Regions from separate parts of the Homo sapiens genome. Here region 1 is linked to region 2. The links come from fine-mapping of genetic effects on plasma protein levels. Region 2 holds a variant in brackets. A gene starts in the other region. All regions are shown on their forward strands.

Evidence for each region. A credible set is the group of variants that fine-mapping cannot tell apart. PIP is the chance, under the fine-mapping model, that this variant and not a neighbour inherited with it causes the effect. Protein levels are from antibody-based Olink assays in UK Biobank. Linkage for the fine-mapping came from a reference panel and not from the study's own genotypes, which makes the PIPs less certain.
Region 1: it holds the start of SCGN, and the variant in region 2 is the best candidate, but not a certain one, in a credible set for the plasma level of the SCGN protein (UK Biobank, PIP 0.63).

The regions. Positions count from the first base shown.
Region 1 is chr6:25,645,885-25,658,266 of GRCh38, forward strand. It overlaps SCGN (secretagogin, EF-hand calcium binding protein), which reads left to right and starts at 6,331. Exons shown (of 11, transcript NM_006998.4): 1 at 6,331-6,601; 2 at 7,498-7,568. The coding sequence starts at 6,520.
Region 2 is chr11:2,196,754-2,209,135 of GRCh38, forward strand. No RefSeq gene overlaps it. Among named protein-coding and RNA genes, the nearest start is that of MIR4686, 30 kb to the left of the region's middle. RefSeq lists an enhancer at 7,922-8,520. The variant C/T (reference allele first, on the strand shown) is at 5,491.

The DNA.
Region 1 (12,382 bases), not on the chromosome of region 2:
ACAGATTCAAGTAGCCCCATGAATTTTAAGCAGGATAAAAAAAATCTCTAGACATATTGTACTAAAACCACAGAACTCCAAAGACAGAGAAAAATCCTTAAAGCAGCCAGAGCAAAACAACGGAGACCTGCAAGGGAATTACATACAGACAAACAGCTGACTTCTCAACAGCAGCGAAGGCATTCAGAAGGTCCTGAGGGAAAGATAATCTCAGCATTCTAAGAGAAAGTAGCTGTCAACACAAAAATCAATATCTGGCAACGTTTTTTGTCAAGAGCAAAGGTGAAATAAAGACATTTTCAGACAGATGATGACTTTTCCTCCAACAGGCCTCGAATAAAGAGGATTTTAAAGGATGCACTTTCAGAAGAATAAGAGTAATCCCAGATGGAATTTCTGAAATGCAAGAAGAATTAGATGAGCAAAAACAATGACAAATATATGGGAAAATCTAAACAAATATTACTAGATGAAAAAATAATGGCAATATTTTGTGGATTTAAAATACACTTAAAATACATAATAACAATAGTATGTAAGATGGGATGGGGTGGACAGTTCTAAAATATCCTAAGGTTTTAACGTTATGTGCAAGGGCTGTAAATGTATTAATTTTTACTTTAAAAGTCATGTATGCATGTTGATATCTCTAGGATTAAAAAAACTGAAACAGAAGATGAATACATAATTTCCAAGTTAATAAATAGGAAAAATGAGAATGAAAAATCTTTATCAAGCAAAAAGCAGAGAGGACAGAAGGGAAAAATAAGCATACAGAAGGCAGGAAAAATAACATGAAATAAATCCAAATATATCAGTAATTATGATAAGTAAAAATAGCTAAATATTCTATGGATACCATCTAAAACATGCAAGATGATGAATGTAAATGGATAAAAATAGCTAGATGAAGCAAATACTACAAAAGAAAGTGGATGCACCTATAATAATATTAGGTAAAATAAACTTTAATAGAGCAAAAAAATGTACAAGAGATAAAAGGTCACTAAACAATAATAAAAGGAATTTGTTCACCAAGAACAGATAACTTTTAATCAATATTCACCCAGTCACATAGTCTCAAAATACATAAAACAAAGAATGCAAATAATGACAAGAAGAACCAGAGAGATCCACCATCAGAATAGAAGACTTAAACATATTTCTCCATAATTTTTAAATCAAGCAGGCAAAAAATCAGTAAGGATATAGAAGTTTAAACAATGTAACTAACATACCTGATGTGATGAACATACCTAGAACCTACATCCCCAAATGGAGAAATTCATATTTTTTCAAGCACACACTAAAAATTTATGAATATTTACTTCATAAAAGGCCATAAATCAATCCTCAACAAAGTTCAAAAGATGGCTACTATAGATCACATTCTCCACCTACAATGCAATTAGATTTAAAAATCAGTAACAAAGAAGTTACATAAATCATGTGTATTTAGGATTTAGGAACACTTTAACTCATGGTCCAAGGGAAATCACAGTGGGAATCAGAAGAAAATTATAATTAAGCAAAACTCATAGGATGTCTCTTAAGCCTTACTTGGAGGGAAATTTATAGCTTTGAAATGATTATATTTTAAAAAGCTGCAAATTAACAAGTTAAGTACATATATATTTAAGTTAAAAAAGAAATGGTTATTAATGTATCAATATTTTGTGAACAAAATTTACAAACTATTTGGGAAATAAATATAATAATGTCCTTATTCTGTGTAGACACCTAGATTTAGCTATGCCTACCATTTGTTTAGTAAGTACTATGTATCAGACTTGGTGCTGAGATAAAACTTCTATATAATTTAGGAATGTAGACCCAGAAGGGGAAAAATAGGAAGAAAATAAATTTTAAAAGCTACACTATGCATTTGTATTATTAAGTTTGTAAGAAGATGGCTGTATAAGTGGCTGGAAAAATATTTACAGTTTCAACTTACTTTAACAGACCTAGAGCTTTTAAAGCACTGGTTTTGTGCTTTAGTACAGGTTACAAAAATCTTCTTTCATAATTTAGTGATATCAACTCCTTAAGAAAAGATGGTATCATTGGGGTAATATAGAATACTAAATAGTCACTGTTTGCAAGACACAGTGCCAGATGCTATGTTCTGTGGGGTAGGAAGGGGAGAGAGGACAAGAAATTTTGAAGAGCCACTTGAGTGTGATAGGCTTTTAACTTTAACACTTAGCCCACCTCTTAAAAAATCCCAAATTACCCCAAACAACCACCTATAAAATCACTATTAACTACTACTTTAAACTATTCAAAGATTTTTATTTTTATTGTTAGTAATGGTGTAAAAAGGTATCTCTTCCACTGCTAATAGCAGTATAAATCAGTAAAATTCAGCTGGAGACCACTTTTAACCTTATGTTATAAAGACTTACGATGTTATACATTGTTTAGCCCAGCACTTGTGCATTTAGAACTTTATCCCGAAGAAATAATTACTAGAGTGTGCAAACATTTAGCTGTAACAGCAGAGGTTTATGATAGTGAAAACCTAGGGACAATTGAAAAGTCTAAAAAGAGGATATTAAATAAATTATGATAATACTGACATTAAAATAATATCATAGAAGAATATTTAATGACATGCTTCATAATATTAAGTGAAATGAGCAAGTTACAGAGCAGTATAATCTACTTTTTCTGCATATAAAAAATTACTGTAAGGACATAAACCCATATGTTATTATTGCTAGTTATCTCTAGATGTCAAAATTATGGAAGAAAGTTTTCTTTCTTGTTTTGTAGTTTTTCTAATCTATATTGTTTAAATTATCTGTACTATTCATGTGATTGCAAAGGAAACAGTAAAATGTATATATTTTAAAAATAACTCTATTTCTAGTGTTTTCTTATTATCTTATGAAAACCACTGTCCAATTTCTTTTGTTCTGCTTGCATGGCCCTTTGGAACTGGTGTGGCTTTAAACCAAGGCTGTCTCTTTGAATTCTAAGGTCTACTATACAGTCTGTGAGATGTCTACAGAGCTTGAATGTTCAACAACATATGAAGATGAGTATTGTTTATATTTCCAGTTAGAAATATCATTCTGAGTTTGTAAAAAGATGCAGATATTTTAGCTTAAAATTGAATGGATGCATCAGAGTTAATTAGCAATGCTTCAAATTACAGACCACTGCCTCTTCTTGTGCAACTAACCATCAATTAGCTATGCTAATGAGAAAAGCAGGAAATGATTGCAGGAGAAAATGAAATCAGTAGGGAAAAAAGAAAAACAACTGATTTTAGTCTCTAGTTTCAGCCATCAATTGTCAAAACTTACCAGGATTACATATAAGTATAAATTCTAACCTCTCTTTGAAAGAGGCAGTGTATTAATAAGAAAGTAATGTTAATTCTTTAGAAGTTTTTTCTTTTCTCGATTATCCTTCAGAGATGCCATACCTAAATAATAAAATGACCAGAATATGAGCAGCAGGAAACTTATAGACAAAAGGTTCGTCAGTGGTTCTAGTGTAATCCCTAGGGGAACACTTAAAAAAATATCAGCATAGAGGTCTTTCTCCAAACCATTTAAATCAGAATCTCTGTGGAAGGTGCTAATTAATCCATAAGATGCAAAATGTATTTCAACTTGATTCCAGCTGCTGAATATTTGCTTTACTCTGAGTTCTCTTTTTGGACAGGAAGGGACTCTGATAAACCACCTCTGGTTCTTTCATCCCCACCTCCATCACTCCATTTTTAGGCAGGAGAACTTTCCCAATGAGACAGTCTTACAGGTGTCTCCTGTAGGATCTTTAAATACCTTCCTACTGGCTCTCTTCTCTGTTAAGGGCTTGGATGATTTTCTCAAAGAGAAACTTTTATGAGGGAATGCAGGATTCCTAAGCAGTATCTCCCTACCCAGTGCCATGATAAATATTTGGATGCAAAGAAAACAGGAAATAAGTCATTGAATGGAGATTGCAGCTCCCCAGAGAGCTCCAGATGACAGGCTCCTGGAAAGTGTTCCAAGTTCTGTTTGTTCTCCAGTCCTGAGAACAGTAATCTTTGCGGCTGTACTTTTCCTCTTCTTTCCCTAGATTTCACTTTTACAACTTTAAAAAAGTATAATAGCTTGCATTATATGCTTACTGCACAAAGTTTTAAGACAAAAGAATTACAAATAGCAAAATTGAAATCATCTGTGAGCCTCCCTCTTCCCCACTCCAGAGAAACATATCATTAATGTCATTAATGTATATCTTCCATGTTTTCTATGTGTAGAAACATGTATTTTATTTTACAGAATTGAGTCATCATATATGTACACTTTTGTAACTTGCTTTTTAATCTTAACCTTATGTTTTGAGTTTTCTGGATCATCAAGCTTCAAAATCAAGATTTCTGTGTATGCAGCAAAGCCCATCATAGATATTTACTATCATTTATTTAACCATCCCTCCACATTAGATCTTGATTATTACTTCTGAAATCTGCCTTGTTTTATCTTTTTCCACTATTTATCAGAAAACAAGATCAGCCCTGGTGGGTTCATACCAATTACTTTTCCTAACTGGTGCTTGACATTGTATCCACTAATTTCCTAAAGTCACAGATGATAATTACAGATACTGAACCCTTACACCCTCCTATGCTACATATGCTTTTCTCCAATTTTTGTAACCAGCACTTGCTTAATCGGTGATAATACTGCTTTTCTTCCTTTAGGCTAAGCCACACTCCTCAAAAATCCTGAAGTTTACTTCACCGTCTTCCAAATATGTATGTATGTATGGAAGATTCATCATTTTAGTAGCTAACTTACACTGAATGTTACTGTATATACTGTGACAATAGGTTTATATGATTTTTTAATTTGACCTTTATGATAATAACACGGGGTAAATACTACTATTATTCCCATTTTACAAAGAAAGTGAGGCTTCTTTTGAGTAACTTGCCCAATATCACACACAACTAGTAAGAGGCAAAGCTGGGCCCTGAACCCAGAACTGTTTTCTTCTGAACCATTTTTTTCATTATTATTAACTAAAGTCCGTGTTTATTAAAATTTTCTTAATTTTTACCTAATGGCCTTTTTCTGTTCCGGCATCACACCCAGGATAAAACATTACATTTCTTTGTCATTTTTCATTAGGTTCCTCTTGGCTATGACAATCTCTTAGACTTTACTTGTTTTCTCTAACAGAGTCATCCCTCATCAGCTACAACACCATAGCAGATATAATTCATTGTGCATTACTATGTATGGTTCTGATCCTCACAGCAACCCTCCAAAACAGATGTTTTAATCCTCATTTTATAGATAAGAAAATTGAGGCTTAGGGAGATGAGAACTAATGGTGCAGTTCACAAAGCTGGTAAATAATGGAACTCAGATCCTGACCCAGGACTATCTGACCTTGAGTGTCATGTTCTTTTCACTACTCTGGTTTAGATGACTTATACATGCATGCTTTTTATAAATAAATCTGAATGCTAAAACCAGAGTCAGGGTGCCATAAAGAAAAGTTACATCTGGTTCAACTTTCTTATCTAATATCCAAGCACTTTCTATAGATTATCCAACGAAAATTTCTAAATATATAGTCAAAAGGTATCAGTGTAGTTTGTACACGTTTCCACAAAGCCTTGCCCAATTTTGAACAGTCCTGATTGTTAGAAAGCTCTGTGTTCCTCCAACTGATTTTTATCCTTTGGTCTTAATGTGGCTCTTAGGAGCCAAACACAATCATCTAAGCCTTCTACCTAAGTACCCTGCAGGCAGACACATCTCCCCCAGACTCTCTTTTCCTGGCAGAGTACGGCTTAGTTTATATTTTCCTCAGCATCCTAATGATGCTACTTTAAATCACAGTGACTTGCAGTATCCCTGTTTAGTTGCAAGTCCTTATAGTGCATTTTGGTACAGCAATGTGTATGTCCTATACAATCAGGACTCAATAATTGCTGTTGACTTCTTCCTTAAAGGGAACCACTTACCACCATCACCATCCCTTCTCGCCTCCCCTCTCCACACACTACATTTCTAAATCCTCAAGTCCAAAGGACCCTAACACTGACACTTCTTGCAACCCTTTAAATGAGGCAGCTCTCCCTAGAAAACCCCTTGAGACACAAGTTTGGAAAGTGAGTCAAACGTAAGAGGGATGTCTTCTCCGAGTCTGAGAAGCAAGTTAAAGGGCAAAAGCAGTGAGCCGTGGACGCCTGGAGACAGTTTCTTTCTTCCTGAATTCCCCAAAGCGCAGAGACAGACAGGATCTGCCAGGACAGCGCGCAGGGCGGGGCGGGGACAGGCGCGCCAGGAGCGGGGCGGGCTTCCAGCCGCTGGTTTTGCTGAGGGCTGAGGGACGGCTCAGCGACGCCACGGCCAGCAGCGCTCGCGTCCTCCCCAGCAACAGTTACTCAAAGCTAATCAGATAGCGAAAGAAGCAGGAGAGCAAGTCAAGAAATACGGTGAAGGAGTCCTTCCCAAAGTTGTCTAGGTCCTTCCGCGCCGGTGCCTGGTCTTCGTCGTCAACACCATGGACAGCTCCCGGGAACCGACTCTGGGGCGCTTGGACGCCGCTGGCTTCTGGCAGGTCTGGCAGCGCTTTGATGCGGATGGTGAGTAGAACAAGCCACTTGCACACTCAGGTGTAGACGTGGCTCCAAGCTCAGCCCGCTGAAAGGACCTGGAGTTTCCCCTTTACTGTAGGAAAAGTTATCGACCTGGGTTGTTAATGCAGTGTACCTAATACAGTATCATTAACAGACGTTTGGCATACTGGTGATACACATCTATATACCTTGTTAAAATTCTGGGTGGTGAATTTCCACTTTCCCCTTTCCAATCTCTCTTTGTGTGCGAGCGCGCCATATATATGGTAGACATACATATATATTGTATATACAATGACTAATATCATTGTATATGTTCAAGGCTTGTGGGCTGAGACTCAGCTATTTGAAGTCATCCTTCCCTAAATGGGCTCACTTTTACGCAGTGACTTTGCTGTACACCCCTCACTCTCTCAAAATGAGAATAAATTTTATCAGCTTTCAAAACGACTCCTCCACCAAAAAACTACTTGAAAATAAAATGGAACTACTTAATATTTGTTTTTATTAATAAAGAAATAAAATATCTAAAAGGTGTGTTTTAACTCTGCAAACTGGGATTCAATACTTACACCTGTTAAGTTTCTCCAAGCTTCAGAAATTTTGGGGTTAAATTTTATTGGAAAGTTCACGTTTATTCATTGATTAAAATTCATGTACTTAATAGCCTTCCTTTTCCAAGCACTAATATAAACCCTAGCATAAAGCACGTATTCTGGAACAGTGTTTACTGTTCAAACCCATGTATTCTAGAGGTAGGTGTTGGCACTTTGTTATTGGAATAACAAAAAATAGTGTTGAGGGAAGCTTTATGAATTGTGAGATTAAAAACATATTTAGATAAATACTGTCATGTGTTTTTTATATGTTAGTATTATTTATGTTTATTTTCTCACATTTAGAAAAAGGTTACATAGAAGAGAAGGAACTCGATGCTTTCTTTCTCCACATGTTGATGAAACTGGGTACTGATGTAAGTACTTGCACACTAAGCCTTAATTTATGCCTCTTAGTAAGATACGCACATCCAAGTCTTATATTGATTGGTACCTATTAATTCCAACTCACCTCCTTTCTTCCTTGCATGTATGTAATTTCTCCCCCTCTCCTAGCAACATAGAGGGATTTAGGCAGTTTTTATAAAAGGTGCAACTGTAGCATTAGACATGCTGGTTACTGACTTTCAGTGTAACATCTGTCATCCACTCAGAGATCCTAACTGTAGACTCAGTTAACTTGGTCTTGAACGTCTCCTTGGTTATGTCTCTGCTAATTGATTTATACCTGGGGGTAAAGTAGCCCACTTTGTTCAAAAAGCTGGAAAAGATGTTAAGCACATTAAGATTTTGGGTGTTTAATATGTATGATACTCCTCTGATAGCAAACCACAAACCATTTAAAATCATTTATCCATTATTCATTTTATTAGAAGAGGTTACAGATTTTTCAGGGAATGACAAACCAGAAAACAACCAGCATACTCAGAGCCCAGATACAAATGGAAGCCAATCTATCTAGTGTCCATCTGATGGTAAATATGTCCTTGGGAGATGTAAATGAACTCTTGAAAGTCTCTCTATCAAAGCAGAGAAAAATTTTACACAGAAACACATGAGCGGAGGACAGCCTGGGGATGGGCTCGATCTGATGAAAGCTCCAGTAGGGCATTCATAGTAGAAGGAGACGCTCTAGGGACAATTGAATTTAAATGAATGATGGAGATAGTTTGTCCTTATCATTCAGCTGTTTATCTGAAGAATAGAAGTGCATCACATTCTCATGTGAGAGCTCAGTGAGGGAACAAGGAGCTCTTCACCACTGTTGAGAACATGGGGAGGGTATGTGGGGGGCAGGGGAAGCTGGTTCAGAAACAAAAGGGCTGGCTTCCGCCTTCTTCAGCCACACAGATCTCTTGGTCCCCCTCTACTTCTGTCTGCCTCTCATATTCTGTCTGTCTCTCTTTTTTATGTCTATCTCTGTCATTTTTCTGCTCACTTCTGTTTCTTATCTCTGTGTTTCATGGCTCTCATCTCCTACTGTTTCTTGCCTTTCTCTCTGACCTCTCTGTTGCCCATCTTTCTTGTCTCTGTTTCTCATTTGTTTCTCCATCTCTCTGTCTCTGTGTTTTCCCATTCTTTTTCCAGTCTCTCTGCTTCTCAAAGCTCTTTTGGTCTTTCCTCTCCCCATGTCTTTTATTTCTCCTTTCTTCTTTCTTTCCCATCTCTCTTTTTGACCTTCATTTCTTTTCTCCACATTTTCTCCTTCACCCTTTTCTTTGTCTCTTATCTCCCTTTTTCTGTACCTTTTATTGCTCTTTGTCTGCCTGCACTCCACCCCTTACCCTGTGCAGCCTGTGAAGTGAAAGGATCAGCAGACGAGAAGGATAGAGACACAAGTCCCTTCTTTCCTCTGGTCAGACCACTTGCGCACACTCCTCTTTATCCTTCATTCTTGTACCTACACAAGCTACAGGTAGAGCTGAGGAAGCCTCCCCCAAGTGAGGCTTCTGCTTCAATCTAGCCAGCCACTTTCACGTGCTAGCAGCCCATGGTGAAGCCCACCAGCCTTGCCCACAGGGCTTCTACTTATATCTGTAAATGTAAGGTTCATCGTGTTCCAGAAACCCATCTTATCTATCATGGACATGGGTATTTGAGGAAAGCAAAAAGACAAAGTTAAAACCATTCAAAATCTTGGAATAAATGGGATGGCCAGCTCCTAAAAATCTGTCCTCAGGGACCTGGAACTTCTCACCTTTTCAGAGGGCTCCTTGTTCTAGTCATTTATAAAAGGGAGGAGAAAAATTGCTGTCACTGTTGAAGCTGGAGTATCTAATATTCATTCATCGAGTTGGGGTCTGCACTAAGATGAGGATGCTGTGAGATATCTTCATCTGAGATTTTGGCTAACCTTAGAAGCATTGTTGCCATTGTGAGAGAAAAGAGGGATGTCATCTCTTGCAGCTTGGCTGTTTTTATCATTGCCCCTATCTCAGACCTGGTCCATGGACTAATGCTCTTACACAGGGGCAAGCATAATCCTCGAGGAAAGAGGACAGCAAAGGACTCACTGGTGTCCTGCGCAACTGCATTCAGTGCAAATATCTCTGAGGCTGGAACGGGGGTTGGAAGTTCTCATAATCCTTAACCTAGTGCAAATCAAATTTCAGTATGCCTGAGAATTATATTTTTTTGTTAAAATGCAGACCCCTAGGTCTCATCCTGTAGGTATTTAAATACATTTGGGGTCTGCCAAAGATCTTTCATTTTAAAAGCACTCAAAGTCAGTTAGCATGTTTTTTTACCCTTTTTTCCTCTAGGAACAGTGACTTTTGGAGAGGGGATTCTGATATAATTAGGCCAATCCCACTGAGCTGTGGCAATAGCCTCAGGCACATCTCATGAGCACTTGGCTGGGAAGAAAGCTTTTGGAGCCAGGATGATAAGTTTGAACTCTTAACTAGAAATGATATCATCTGCCATTGGATGCCTTTCAAAACGCTGAGGCATTACTCTGGGGAGTGTGTTTGCAGGGACTTTCACTGGGCACTCCATGCTACCTGGACAACCATGATTAAGGAAGCTATTCCTAATTTTGGGTTTTGTCTCTGATGAGTAATAAGTAGGCCTTAAGCAAGTTCTTAACAATAGGGCAGGACTTCCAAAATGGAAGGCCCTTCAGTTGAGGAACAGTCACCATTTGATTGTGACACCTGCTTTTGATTGGTAATGCCCAGTGAGTACAGAATCCAGCAGCAGGGAGGCCTCCACAATCAGGCAGCCCCTTGCTCTGGTGTTCAGCAGTGGTAAGCCAACCTTCAGAGGCATGAATAGCTCTACTTTCCTCTGATGATTAGCGGATCACAGAGATCTCAGAAGAAGGTATTTTGAGGTTTCTAACAGCAAGCTGCCTGCTAGTCTATCCAGGAGAGCAACCAGCCTGCTTGTAATTACCTATTCCTCAGAGCCTCGGAGGGGATTGACTTAATGGAACCATCAGCTGCAATTGCTGCTGTTTCTGTTACTCCCTGCAAACCTTTTCTTTCCAAATGCTGAGATTTTAGCCAGTTCATGGATAAACATCAGATTCTATGTGTACATACCCCTCACATACAGACTGTACCACATCCTGGGCCTCTTTCAATACTTCAGGGATTATAGTACCCTGCTGTAGCCTAGCGTCTCAGATAAGGACTGATGGGAAATTACAACAGAGGAAGCCCCAGTTTCTTTTGCTTTAGGTCAAAGGGATAGTCATGAGCTTTGGGGTTAGGGGTCTGAGAAGACAGAAGCCAAGATTCTGTGTCCTCAAACTAAAGGTAATGTAGAATCTGGCCACTGTTACTTTGACTTCACATTTATTTACTTTAAAATCTAATTTTTCACCAACATGACCTATGTTAGTTAACTTCCTTTGGGAATTCCCAGCCCATCATAAAGAATCATTTATTCATCCAATGGATCCTGTGTTCCAGAGATAAAGAAATGAATGTTATACTTGTGGAGTTCTTAATCTAAAAGATCAAGCTGAATTTCAAAGTGAAGTTCGACCCTGTTGAGTGATTTCCATTGTGCTTTTCCTGTATGGTACATGAACCCTCAAATGTAAGCACACACAAAATCTTTAGTGCTGAAACTAGACAGGTTAATCCCACCACGATTAGTGGGGTATCACATGAGGTAACCTGGTTGACAGAAGAACCTGGAGTCTCAAAGAACCTGTTCACCTTCCACAGAGAATAAAAAAAATGTACCTATTGTCTCTGAAGACCCACTCCAAAGAAGACTCATGGTCGGTGGGGAAAGGACAACTATGTGTGGAGGCAGAAATCCAATGCTCATTCCCTGTCTCTCCATCTAGAGCTGTGTGATAGCAACATGCCATTTAAACCTCCTGGGTCTCAATTTTCCTATCCATAAAATAATAATTATTAGAATAATGTTTTGGCCTGCCTGTTTCACAGTGAAGACCCATAAGATAACACAAGTGAAAGGTGCTTTTAGTTGCAAAAGCACCCAACATATATGTTCTTATGCTGACGCAATATCTTCTTGGGTCCTTAGTTTTCCCAGTGTTTATTCTATGCCCCACTTTGCCTCAGATCCACCAAGGGGTTATCCCACACAGGATCATTGAAGCTTACTCTCTTAAACACTGAAATGCTTTTAAGATTTTATATATATATATAATATATATATTACGTGTATATATATATGTGTATGTGTGTGTGTGCATATATATATGATTTCCAGTTTATGAGAGCAAGTTTTCCAAGCTAGGGTAGCCTTTGGAGGATGCCTTAAGTCATACTCACCACCACTCTTTGGTCCTTCATGAGTAAAGGAGGCTACTCAAAGGAAGACAGAAGACAGACTGTCACCTCAGGGACCTGTTAGACTTGCTCTGTCTTAGACAAATGATACAGGCATTATCTCTCATTTCTTCACTTGATGCTTTGGTTCCAAATCACTAATGTATTTTTTCACATTTTTAGTCTGGTGTGTGTTCATTTAGAAAGGTATCCTTTTTTTTTTTTTTTTTTTTTTTTTTTTTTTTTTTTTTTTTTTTTTTTTTTTTTGAGAGGGAGTGTCGCTTTGTTGCCCAGGCTGGAGTGCAGTGGTGCGATCTTGGCTCATTGCAACCTCCGCCTCACGGGTTCAAGCTATTCTCCTGCCTCAGCCTCCCGAGTAGCTGGGACTACAGGCACGTGCCACCACGGATGGCTAATTTTTTGTATTTTTAATGGAGACGGGGTTTCACCATGTTAGCCAGCATGGTCTCAATCTC
Region 2 (12,382 bases):
TCATCTCTGTCTTCGTCTCCGCGTCTCTGTCTCCCCGTCTCCATCCCTCTGTCTCTCTGTGTCTCTGTCTCCCTGTCTCTCTGTTTCTGTCTCTCTGTCTCCATCTCTGTGTCTCTGTCTCCCCGCCTCCATCTCTCTTCTGTCTCTCTGCATCTCTGTCTCCCCATCTCTGTGTCCTTGTCTCTGTGTCTCTGTCTCCTCATCTCTGTCTTCATCTCTATGTCTCTGTCTCCCCTTCTCCATCTCTCTGTCTCTCTGTGTCTCTGTCTCCCTGTCTTTGTCTCTCTGTGTCTCTGTCTCCCTGTCTCTGTCTCCATCTCTGCATCTCTGTCTCCCCACCTCCATCTCTCTTCTGTCTCTCTGCATCTCTGTCTCCCCATCTCTGTGTCCCTGTCTCTGCGCCTCTGTCTCCTCATCTCTGTCTCTCTGTGTCTCTGTCTCCCTGTCTCTCTGTCTCTGTCTCTCTGCGTCTCTGTCTCCCCGCCTCCATCTCTCTGCATCTCTGTCTCCCTGTCTCTGTGTCCCCGTCCCCGTGTCTCTGTCTCCCATCTCACATGTACAGTCGGAGAGGAGGAGGAGCCCTGGGTGCTGAAGGCAGAAGTCAGGCCGAGGAGCCGCCCTGCAGGGTGTCCAGGTGGCCACACGGTGGGGCCCTCGTCCCATGTCCAGGTGGCCGGGCTGCAGGAGGAGGGTGCTGGTTCCTCAAGGAGGAGAGGGGCTGGGAAGGGGTCAGGAAAGGGGAGCTGGGGTGGGACTCAGGGGGTCTCCATCAGATTGCTCTCAGGGAACCAGGCTGGTCCCCAGGACCCCGAGGGAGGGACAGGACCGCAGGAGGTGCGGCTCAACCGTGACTGCCACAGGAGTGGGGCAGGGGAAGGGTGGCGGGGCCAGGCGTGGGCCGCCCGAGGTGCTGACACTGCCAGGCAGGGCAGGGGTTGCTCACGTCCCAGGAGGCCCCCATAAGACTCCCACAGTCGAGTGCAGAGGTCTCCGAAGCAACTCAGTCCCGCCTACAATCTAGCCATGGGGCTTGGGCTTAACGGGGGTCAATGGGCGCCAGGCCTGAGGACGTGGGGCCCCCAGACACACTTTCTCTACAGGCACGTCGCATGCCACACACCACACATGCACACACACACTTGCGGGCCCTGCAAACACGCGTGCGCAGATGCCAGCACACACGGCCCTACGCGCAGCACACACAGTCACACACACGCCCTCGGCGGCCTCCTGCACAGCTGTGCACTCTTACACCACAGGAGAAAGGAAAGAATCACACCCCAGCCCAGAAAGAGACCACCGTGTGGCACCACAGCCCAGCCTGCAGGGTAGCAGGGGAGAGGCCAGCAAGTGACAAACGGGGGCCGGTCCGCAACCCCAGCTCCCTAACCAGGCACCAACTGCCGGGGCATCTTGGCCCCTGGGCTTCAGCTCCCCTGGGAGGATCCACATGGCCAGGCCGCACACATGCCCCACCCCTCCCCACCCAGCTCAACGTCCTCCATCACCCACACCCCACGTGCCCTGTGCCATCCCACTCAGGACCTCGCTGCTTCCTTTCTCCCAGGGCAAAGCCCAGCTCAGGGGACAGAGGAGGGGGCCAGTGGGGGCCCCTGGAGTCCCCACAGTCACTGGACTTGGCATGCACGTCGGGGTGGGGACATGGCATGAGTCGTCTGCTGAGGTGGCCTTGAGCCCACCTCAAGGACCCAGAGACCTGGCAGGCGGCACCTTTCTAGGGGCTGTCCAGGGACCAGGCCTGGCCAGTATCTTCACCTGGGATCAGGAGGGCTCCTCCTCAAAACCCACCCCAGGGATGTCGGGTGCATCCCTTCCCCCTCCAGGATCCTGTCCTCACAGCCACTGGCAGGGAAGGGGTCGTGGCCCCTGCTCCACAGAACTAGGAGCTGGGCCTGCCATGTGGTCATTCACAGGCCAGCCCAGCCCCATGTCGTCCCAGTTCTGGTGGACAGCAAGACGAGGCCACCTGGTGCTGGGCCTCTCGCCTCCACAGGGCCAGCATCCCTCCTTTAACTAGCGCTAGGCCTGGCTACTGGCTGGGAATACAACTGTTCCAGCACCAAAAGTCACCTGTGCCTGCAGGGTCTCGCGCCTGGGTGTCCGAAGTCGGCACAGCACAGCCCTCACAGACATACCTAGCCCCGGACCTTCTGAGCTGAGCAGTGGGAGCCAGGGCCTGGCTGGCATAGCTCACTGTCTGCCCTGGGCAGGTTGACCACCACAGACAGACAGCCACAGACCAATGGCCTAGAGGACTGCCAGCCAAGGCACAGCCCTTTGTCCAGCACAGCCAGCACCTGCAGACAGGGACAACCAGGAGTGGGTGAGAGTCAGACAGGCTGACCCGCAGAGGGCCTCCAGCTGGGGACATGAGGGCAGACGTCACAAAACCACAGCATCTCCTGTTTCCCTGCCGCAGGCGTGAGGGGACGTGGTGGTGCGGGGAACAGGGCAGCTAGCGGAGCCCGGGGCAGCTAGCGGAGCCTGGAGCAGGAGGCGGCCTGGGCAGGCCTGGAGGAGGGAGCCCTTCTCACCCTCCTGCCCAGAATACCTAGGTCCTTCCTGGCTGGCCAGCTCCGTCTCCACTGGGCTCCCTGACCATACTTTCTATACCCACTTCTCTGCCGTGCAAGGGAGGCCATGGAGGCTTGAAAGCATAGTCTCTGACTATGTCCCCTAAGGTCGGGCCATCCTCCCCTCCTCAGCCTGGGCCTTCCCAAGACAGGGGCCCTTTTGCTGGAACTTTTGGACAGTCAGGTGACCTGGCATCCACCAGGGACCTCTGAGGCTGAGCACAGAGAATGCCCCACCTCCAGGAGCAGCCCGTTGCTGCAGTGGGCCCTGGACAGAACCCCCAGGCCACAGCTGGGGCCCATCCCATGACTGCCCTGCTGCAGACTTGTTGCTGGGCCACTCTGGCCGAGGCCTTTATAAGCGCCTACTGCATGCTGCCCCACTCTGAATGTGGTATGGCCGGCAGGGTGGCAGGGGCCCGGGGTCAGCTCATGGTGCAGCGTTCAGCGCAGGTGCGCTGTTGGCTCCTCTGATGGCTCACGGGGCCAGCCCTGCAGCTAGCAGGGTGTGAGCCCAGAGCCCCAAGGTGTTTCTGGGTCCCCAGACTCCCCAGTTGCTTGTTTCAGCCCAGCAGCCCCCTTCCTGAGCTGGATAGGACCGGGGCTCCTCCGAGAGGCCTAAGTCTGCATCCTAAGGCAGGCCAGATCCCCCTCCCCACCCGTGTCCCAGCCCATCCTCCACCCTGGCACCTACCCGGGCACACCGGTGAGCACTGGATGGCCGTTCCACCTGGAGAAAATGTCCCCTGTGCTGAGCAGGACAGACAGGGTGTGGAGGTGAGGGCAAGACAGAGGCAGGGGCTGGACAGGGAGCGGGCACAGAACGACCAGGGCTCTGGACAGGCCAGGGCAGAGAAAGCAGTGGCCTGCACAATCTTGCCCTGGTGGGCGGCCTCCGGGACTAAAGACGCTCGCTATCCTGAGAGCTCAGTCAACTCAGGCAGCCAGAACAAAGGGCCACAGACTGGGGGCTTAAACCCTACGCATTCATTTCCCATAGCTCTGGGGTCTGGGCGGCCCAGATCAAGGGGCCAGCAGATGCGGTTGCTGGTGAGAACCCGCTTCTTGGCTCCCCGTCGGGGCCTCCCCAGGCTCACATGGACAGCAAGCAAGTGCTGTGGGGTCTCTTCTTATAAGGATACTCACTGTATGGGGTCAGAGCCCACACTTGTGCCCTCATTTAGCCTTGACTACCTCCACCAAGGCCACACCTACGCCCTTTACAGAACCCCCACGATGGGCCACGGTCCTGTTGGATCCTCACCCTCTTCCCACAAAGCAGACACTCCCAGACTTCACCAAGGAGACACGGAGGCTGCAGAGGTGGACGCATGGGCAAGGCCATCAGCTGGGGAAGGACTGCCCTGGCGTCTGGGCTTGTTGCCTGCCTCCTGGCCCCAGACAGCCTATTCCAACAGCCCTTCCTCCCAGCCGCCCACCCACATCTGTCCACCTTCCCGGGGGTGTCCTGTCATCTGCCAGTTCCTTTTTTCACCCTCGAGCAGCCCCCACAAGAGAGGACGGGGACCACCCAACTGCAGAACAAACCTGGACTCAGAGTCGACCAACAACCAAAGGTCAATTCTCTATGAAGGTGAAAAAGAGATATTTTCAAAGCAACTGAATTAATAAAACAGTCCAACTGCTTTAGGAAGATTTATTCATGAAAGAACTTCTGGGACCCCTCCCATATGATTATGGGCACACTGAGACATGTACTCTCTGGACCCCAAAAGCTCTTAAGCTAATAAGAGATAAGTTGTGATTTAACCCATGCCCATCTGCTCATAAAAGTGGTGAGAGTTAATGGATAGATGGATGAATAGATACATAAATGTGTAGATAGGTGCCTAAAGATAGATGCACAGACAGATCAAAGGATGACGGGAGGAAGAGAGGGAGAGATGGGTAAAGGGATGAATGAATGGATGGCAAAATGGATGGATGGATAAGTGGATGGGTGGATGGATGGATGGATGGATGGATGGATGAGGTGGATGGATGGATGGATAGATGGATGGATGGATGGATGGATGGATGGATGGATGGATGGATGAGGTGGATGGATGGATGGATGGATGGATGGATGGATGGATGGATGGATGAATAGATGGATAGATGGATAAGTGGGATGATGGATAAATGGGTGGATGGAAACTGAGAAGAAAGACCTTTGCTGTATTCCAAACACCATATCCTTAGTCTAAAGACTCAACTCTGGTCCCTGCCAGCTTGGACATTTGCCTGGGTTGACCCTCTTGTAAACAGACCTAACAGACCTCCAGTTCTCTGAAACCCCAATCCTTACCAATGTCAGACTTGGTAGCTAGTTAACGTAACCCTGAAACCCTGGCCCACCTGGGGCTTAGCCATGGTAGGGGGGCTGCCCACTGCTAACTGGGTACCTTCTAAGTCCTCTGCCAAGCATCAGTATACCACATTAAGATTTAGTAGATAAATGGGTGCACACATCTGTACAATGTCTCCCTGTAGGGGAATCTCAGGACCCCGCTGAGGGGATGCTAGGAGCTGTGTGCTGTCCAGTCACTCTTGTCTTCTAGGCCCAGCAGAAAGGTCCTCTACTCCTCTGAAACAGAGGGGATCCCTCAACCCTTCCTCCTCTCCCTCCCCCATGGGGGCCATTAAGACCCCCATGAGTTCTAGACCACATGGTCCTCTAGTGCTTGGTTCATCCCAGGTGTCTGCCAGGCCCTGCCCAAAAATGCAATGTCTGGGCAGCAAGGAGGCTGAGGCCAGACCCCACCCTCATCCATGCCTGGAACCTGCATCCACGTGGCAACCCCTCCCTCCAAACCCAGCTCATGCCAGGGCTCAGAGCATGGTGGAGAGGGTAGCCCTGGGCACCTGGGGCATGGCAGGACTGCCCTGCCTGCCC[C/T]GCCTGCCCCGCCCTGGCCCGTGCCTGCAAGAGCCACCTAGGGAAGGCTCCTTCACCTGGCCCTGGGCCTACACTCCACCCAGGAATGTCCTGCACCCCTGGAGTGTGGAGATGAAGGTTACGGGGTCCAGCCTCTGGGCACCGGGACATCTGGGGTAGGGGCTGAAGGCCATTCAAAGCCCCTGCCCCGAAGTCTACCTTCCCTCCTCGCCCCTCCCCCACCCACCCTGGGGGAGGTTTGTAATCTTCAGTGTCATAACCTGTCAGGCCTGTTTGGAAGGGAAGGGCCGCCAGCTTCCTACCAGGGAGCAGGGAGCTCAGGCGTTGGTTAGAGAAGAGGTGAAGCGTGCACAGGAAGCGTGCGGGGCCCCCCTGGGCATGGGGGAGGGGCGCCGGCCGACGGGAGCTTGGGCACGTGCTCACACACGGGACTGGACCGTGTGTCACAGCAAGCCTGGGTAGGTGCAGACAGGTCCGCGCGTGTCACCTGCGCAGTGCACAGGGGCCTCTGCTGCGGACGCAGGGCCTGCCGGAGTGACTGCCTGGCTGCCCAAGATTCCAGGGGTTCCACTCCATCCGGTGCTGAGTGGTGCCCCCCACCCCAGAGACCTGGGACAGCCGAGAAATGGAGGAGAGGAACCCACCCACCCAGCCCTGTGGCCTCCAGGCTTGACTTGGGTGCAGCTGGCAGAGGCCCTGCCCCTCTGGCTGTCTCCCTCCTAGAGGGGTCTAGGAGTTTCAGGAACTGGGGACCGAGGGAGGTCTTCTGCAGAGACAAGAGGGCGCAGGGCGCAGGCCAGGAAACCCCTTCACCTGCAGAGCCATCGGTGTGGGGAGGTCAGCCACGGGGTGTCTTGGTGTCTCAAGGGGGCCTTAGGTAGAGCTGTTCACTCCCTCCTTGTGGCCCCCCGAGGCCCAGGAGGGACCTGGAGCCCATGTCCCAGGAGTGCCCTTGGGAAGGTCAACTCCAGGAACCCTTGCAGCCCGAGGCTAGGGCTCTGAAGCTGGGATGGGCAGCGGGGGCCCTGCAGGGCCCCACAGGCACAGAAATCTCTGTAATCCTGAACCATAAAGGGGCCGCCTTCCCTTTTGATTCTAAATTTTAATAGCAAAATGAAGAGATAAGTCAGCTTTGATCTGAGTTTTATTAGCCTATGCCTTTGTTCCCTCTCTCCTTTAGGGGAACAGACGGGTTTACGGCTGGTCTCCCCATCCCTCTGTCAGCTGCAGGCGGGTGGCGGGCGGCCGCTCTGATAAGGCCTGGTCCCTGCCCCTGTGCCTCTGTGGGGTGCCGGCACAGCAAGCCTGGGACCTGGCCGCCGGCCCCTCCGCCAGGTCACCGGGAGGCCTGGGGGGCAGGTACCCTCAGGTTAGGGGGACTCTGGGATACAGACCCCTGCAAGCCCGTGGCCTCCTATTTCTCCCATCCCACCTCCCTCCCTCTGCCTGATGACTCCCGTGGGTGGGGCTTCTGCCTTCCCAAGCCCCTGTGCCTCAGTTTCCTTACCTAAAGAACAGGGTGCTAATGGAGACAAGGGAGACCAGGAGACAGCTCAGCCAGGGGCCAAACCAGCAGCTATTGCTATGGAGGTTCAGGGAGGTGAGGATGTTGGACCACAGGCTGGGAACTGGCCCTCCAGGGACCCCTGAGGAGAGCAGGCCTGGGATCCTGGGGCTGGGCTGGGGGAGCCGGTGGACTCCAGGGTGAACGCGGTGTTAGCCTGTGTCTGCTGGGACTGGGCCACAAGAGTTCCCAGCTTCAAAGGGCCAGGGGAGGCCTCGGGGCCCCGCCCACCTGTGAGTTCGGGGACATCAAAGGGCCCCACCCAAGGGGCGGCTGGCAGTCGGAGCAAGGGTAGAAACATCCAGAACTCTATCTCCAGAGGGAGCGGCTGGGGTCAGCCCCACCCCTGGGTCCACTGGAGGCCCCCTGCAGTGACCCGAGGCCCCTGCCTCACCCTGAGGTTCTGGCCAGGCCGGTGACACCCCACCTCTCTGGGTGAGGGCCTTGCTCCCAGGGGTGGCTGGGGAGTGGTGGGTGGGGCTTCTGGGGGCTGTGACACAACCGCACTCCACTTAATGATCACCCAGTTTTAACGGGGATCCAGGAGCTTCTGGGGGGTGCTGGGTGCTGGGTGACACCATGGCCCCCTCGTGCGTCCCTAGCCTGGCGGCAGGTGCTCTGGGCCCTCTCCCTGGGACTATCTGCCTGGACGGCATTTTCTGGCCCTTTTAACACCGGGGTCCCTAGCCCAGCCCTGGGCCTTTACGATCAGGAGGTGAGGAGGACCCCTCACCCCAAGGGAAGCCTCACCCTGATGGGACAGGCCTGGCCTCGGCTGAACTGCACAGAGGGGGGGCCCTTGAGAGCTCCCCTGCTACAGCCTAGGTGCCCCCTTCCACTGCCCTGGCAGTAGCAAAGGTCCACAGCATGGGTGGACATGCCTGATGGCAGCCCTACTGTGTGCCAGGTGCCAGGACGCAGCCTGACCCCAGGATCCGGTTCGCTCCTCTCCACAACCCTGGGCGGGGATCCTCTCCTAGGACCCTCCGGAGCCTGAGGGTCAGAAGGTGGTGACATCCAGTCACACGGAGAGGGACTTGGAGTGTCTGTACGGCACCATCCTGTCCCGCTGCCTAAAGGGAGCGCCTGCTTCAATTCCTGCCCCCAGGGCCGTAGGAGCAGGCCTTCCGGGACTCCGTTCCTAGGATCACCGATGGAATTCCTGGTGGGGGTGGGACTCTGCCCCTTCAAGGACTCTAGAGGATTCCATGACAGGGTGGGTTGGGCCTGAAGGGCAGGGGCCAAGTATGGGGGCCTCCCCACAGATGTGAAAGCAGAGGTTTCCCTACCTCCTGCCAGAGGGCAGGGAGCATAGCTGGATGCTGTGGCTGGGGGCAGGACTCCTGGCAGCCTTGTTCCCCAAGGCAGAGGGTGACAAATCACTAATTGGCCTCTGGGGCGGTGCTGCACCTGACCTGGGCTGTCTTCAGGGGCTAGTGATTCGCTGAAAAAAGCCCACATTCTGCCAAGGCTCAGCCTCCACACCTCCTCACATCCCAGCCAGCCATCCTCCCCACCTCCCTCCCTCCCAGCCTCCAGCCTCCCCACCTCCCTCCCTCCCAGCCTCCAGCCTCCCTACCTCCCAGCAGCCCAGCCTTCCAGCCTCCCCACTTCCCAGCCCCTCTGCCTTCCAACCTCCCTACTTCCCAGCCTTCCAGCCTCCCCACCTCCCAGGCTCCCCACCTCCCAGCCTGCCCACCTTCTACCTCCAAGCCTCCCCACCTCCCCACCTCTCAGCCTCCCCACCTCCCAGCCTCTCCACCTCCCTACTGCCCAGCCTCCAGCCTCCCTACCTCCCAACAGCCCAGTCTTCCAGCCTCCCCACTTCCTAGCCCCTCTGCCTTCCAACCTCCCCAACTCCCAGCCTCCCCACCTCCCAGCCTGCCCACCTTTCTACCTCCAAGCCTCCCCACCTCCCTACCTCTCAGCCTCCCCACCTCCCAGCCTCCCCACCTCCCTACCTCTCAGCCTCCCCACCTCCCAGCCTCCCCACCTCCCTACTTCCCAGCCTCCCTGCCTCCTTACCTCCCAGCCTCCCCACCTCCCTACCTCTCAGTCTCCCTACCTCCCAGCCTCCTCACCTCCCTACCTCTCAGCCTCCCCACCTCCCAGCATCCTCACTTCCCAGCCTGCCACCTTTCAGCCTCCCCACCTCCCTACCTCCCAGCCTCCCCATCTCCCTACTTCCCAGCCTCCCTGCCTCCCAGCCTCCTTACCTCCCTACCTCCCAGCCTCCCCATCTCCCTACTTCCCAGCCTCCCTACCTCCCAGCCTCCTCACCTCCCTACCTCCCAGCCTCCCCACGCCCCTACCTTCCAGCCTCCCCACCTCCCTACCTCTCAGCCTCCCCACCTCCCAGCCTGTCAGCCTCCCCACCTCCCAGCCTCCCCACCTCCCAGCCTCCTTTCCTCGTGTGAGTGTTGTGGAGGGACATTGGGAGAAGGGGCTTATCCGGGACACAATGCACTGATCCTAAGACATTTGTTTACACTTATTGTCTCTGAAAGCAGGTTTCATGTGAATGCTGCCAACAGCCAGGTTCATGACATGGTGGCCCCAGCTCAACACGGATGAACCTGACTGTATCACCTGGCAGTGACCCCTCTACACTTCCATCCCAAGCCTCAAGGGCCCATCTAGGGAAGGACAGTGAGTCTGGGGCGCCGTCCAGAGATCATTTGCTGGCACCTGCTGGTAAGATCTAGATACCGGCAGAGCAAGCAAAAGTTCCCGGGTCAATCGTGGAGGCCCCTCTTGGGGAACGGGTGTCCCCCAGCCCTGTACATGGCCCAAAGGAAGAGTGTATGAGGGACAGCCTCGGTGCAATGACTCTAGACAAAATTGACCCGGAGGAAGTGGACTCAAATGTGGGGACAGTAACCCTTACTTGCTGGTATTTTCTCTCTACGTGTGTATACAACAGTGATTTATGAAAATCCCTCCCTCAACCCATCAGGCAAGGTGCTTTCAATAAGCAAGAAACAAAACAAGGAAAACACTATTTCCTTGTTTAAGTTCCATTTCTTTTTTTTTTTTTTTTTTTTTTTTTGTGAGACAGAGTTTCATTCTTGTTGCCCAGGCCAGAGTGCAATGGTGCGATCTCGGCTCACTGCAACCTCCACCTCCTGAGTTCGAGTGATTCTCCTGCCTCAGCCTCCCCAGTAGCTGGGATTACAGGCGAGTGCCACCATGCCCAGCTAATTTTGTATTTTTAGTAGAGATGGGGTTTCTCCATGTTGGTCAGGCTGGTCTCATTTCTTTTCTCATCATGATGGCAAAATGATGGTAAAACTTGACATGGGCCTTAGATTTGAAGAACCAAGAGGGCGTCGAACAGCCACCCTATCTTGTGTACATTTTCCATTGTATTTCACTCTTGCAGCTGCCTTATAAGGTAGGGTCTACCGTGGTCCTGATTTTTCACATGAGAAAGCTGAGGCTGGGACTCAGGTCACACATGCAGGCAGATGTCCCTTATCAGAGTGTCCCTTCAGGGTCACCCACAGCTGCCCAACAGCAGTGACTACAGCCAGGAAGTCGTGGAACCATCGCCTCTCACAGTTCTGGAGTTGACGGGTCTTAGCTGGGCAGTGCTCACTCAGGGTGTCTCGTGGGCAGTCAGACGACAGCTGGAGTGGACGTCGGCTCAGAGCATCCTTGCTGGCAGGTCTGGTGGCTGGTGCTGACTTTGTCAGGTTCTGCCAGGGCCATTGGCTGCACATCTGCATGTGCCGCCTCGGTGGCACCTGGGCTTCCTCACAGCATGGCAGTCAGGCTCCAAGGGCAGCTGCCCGAGAGCTCCAGGAGGAAGCTGCGTGGCCTCTTATGATGTGGTCTGGGAGTTCCAGGGTGTCCCTTCTACTGTGGTTGTCAGCCTGCCCCAGTTGTAAGAGGTGGGAGAGGCCCCACATCTGCGTGTCCACACCATAATGGGGAAAGGGTACGCACCACCTTCTGAGAGAGTCATCTGCCACGGGGTGGCACAAGGTCATGGCATTTCACATGGTTGTCACCCAAAGAAAGCCCTCAGCCGTGGAGCCTTGCCCTCTCCAGAAGCGTCATAGGAGATGCCCCGTTACGTCTGCAGACAACCCGTGTGGGTTCACAGCCTCCATCAGCAGGTCAGTTGTTTGTTCCCTCTGAGGAGCAGGAGCAGGGGCCCAGGCACGCTCCCAGTGGGCACCGAACACCTGCTGCTGGGTGCCTGCCCCGCACGTAGGAGGGACACAGCGGTGAGCAGGCGCTGGTCCTCATGCGGCTGCCTGCTGGTGGAGGGAATGTCACGATCAGGGAAGAAGCAGATCTCACATAGAGATGTCAAACGCTGGCATCCAAGAAAAATCCAGCCGTGTGGCGGGAGCAGAGGGCTCCGTGAGGAGAGGCAGGTTCCTTGCTCTTCAGCCTCCCTGGGAAGCTGTGGGAGGAATGTCTGCACCGTGCAGAGGCCCTGAGGCAGGAGTGAGTGTGTCTGCAGCTGGTGGGCAGTGAGTGGGGAAAGGTGCAGGCCAGGCCAGAAGGGCGGCCTCTGAGAAGGGGAGCCTGATGAGGACAGCCCACGCCCTGGCTTGACCCCGGGCAGCTGCTCTCAGCAGTGCCTGCAGAATCCATGAAAATGCTGATCCCAGGCCCTACCTGTGACTCACAGTCTGCGGCCAGGCCTGGGATGTGCATTTTGCAGGAATATTCTCAGAGCTCCAGAGCTGGCAGACCAGGGTGAGCCCATGGCCTAGAAAACCAGAAGGACCGGGAGGCATTCCTCAAAGGCAGGAAGGTTTGGAATATCAGAGAAGAGGGGGATGTCCTGGTGCCCCCTGGCCTGCTGGGCACAGGCTCACATAGCCTGGGCTTCCCTGGTGTTCCAGGCAGCTGAGGAGTTTGAGGTCTGAGTGCCCTGGGGTAGAGCGGGATGGCAAGCCAGGTGCCAAGCAGAAAACGGGGTCACTCCCCCGCTGCCTGTGAGCAGCCCTGAGAAGAAGCTGGCAGCTGTCCACACCTCACGCCAAGGCTGGCTGGCCCCATGTTCCAGAAATCACCCGTCCCAGGCTGCCTCGCTCGCCGCGCTTCTCAGCCTGTCCACCTGGAGTGCTGGAGGCTGTGCCCAGTCCTGGTCCGGCATGGCCTGGCCCTTTTTCTTCCTGGTAGGGAGCTCAGCGGCTGGCCAATGGGCAGCAGAGGGGGCAGCAGACAGCCAGGGCACAAGGAGGCGGCGGCAGGGCAGGCCCAGGCCAGTGGAGGCAGAAGCCGCAAGCTGGGAGCGGAGAGGATGGCGGAGTCTGGCAAGCACCCAACAGGTGGCAGAGACAGAGCCTGGCCCGGTGGACAGTGCAG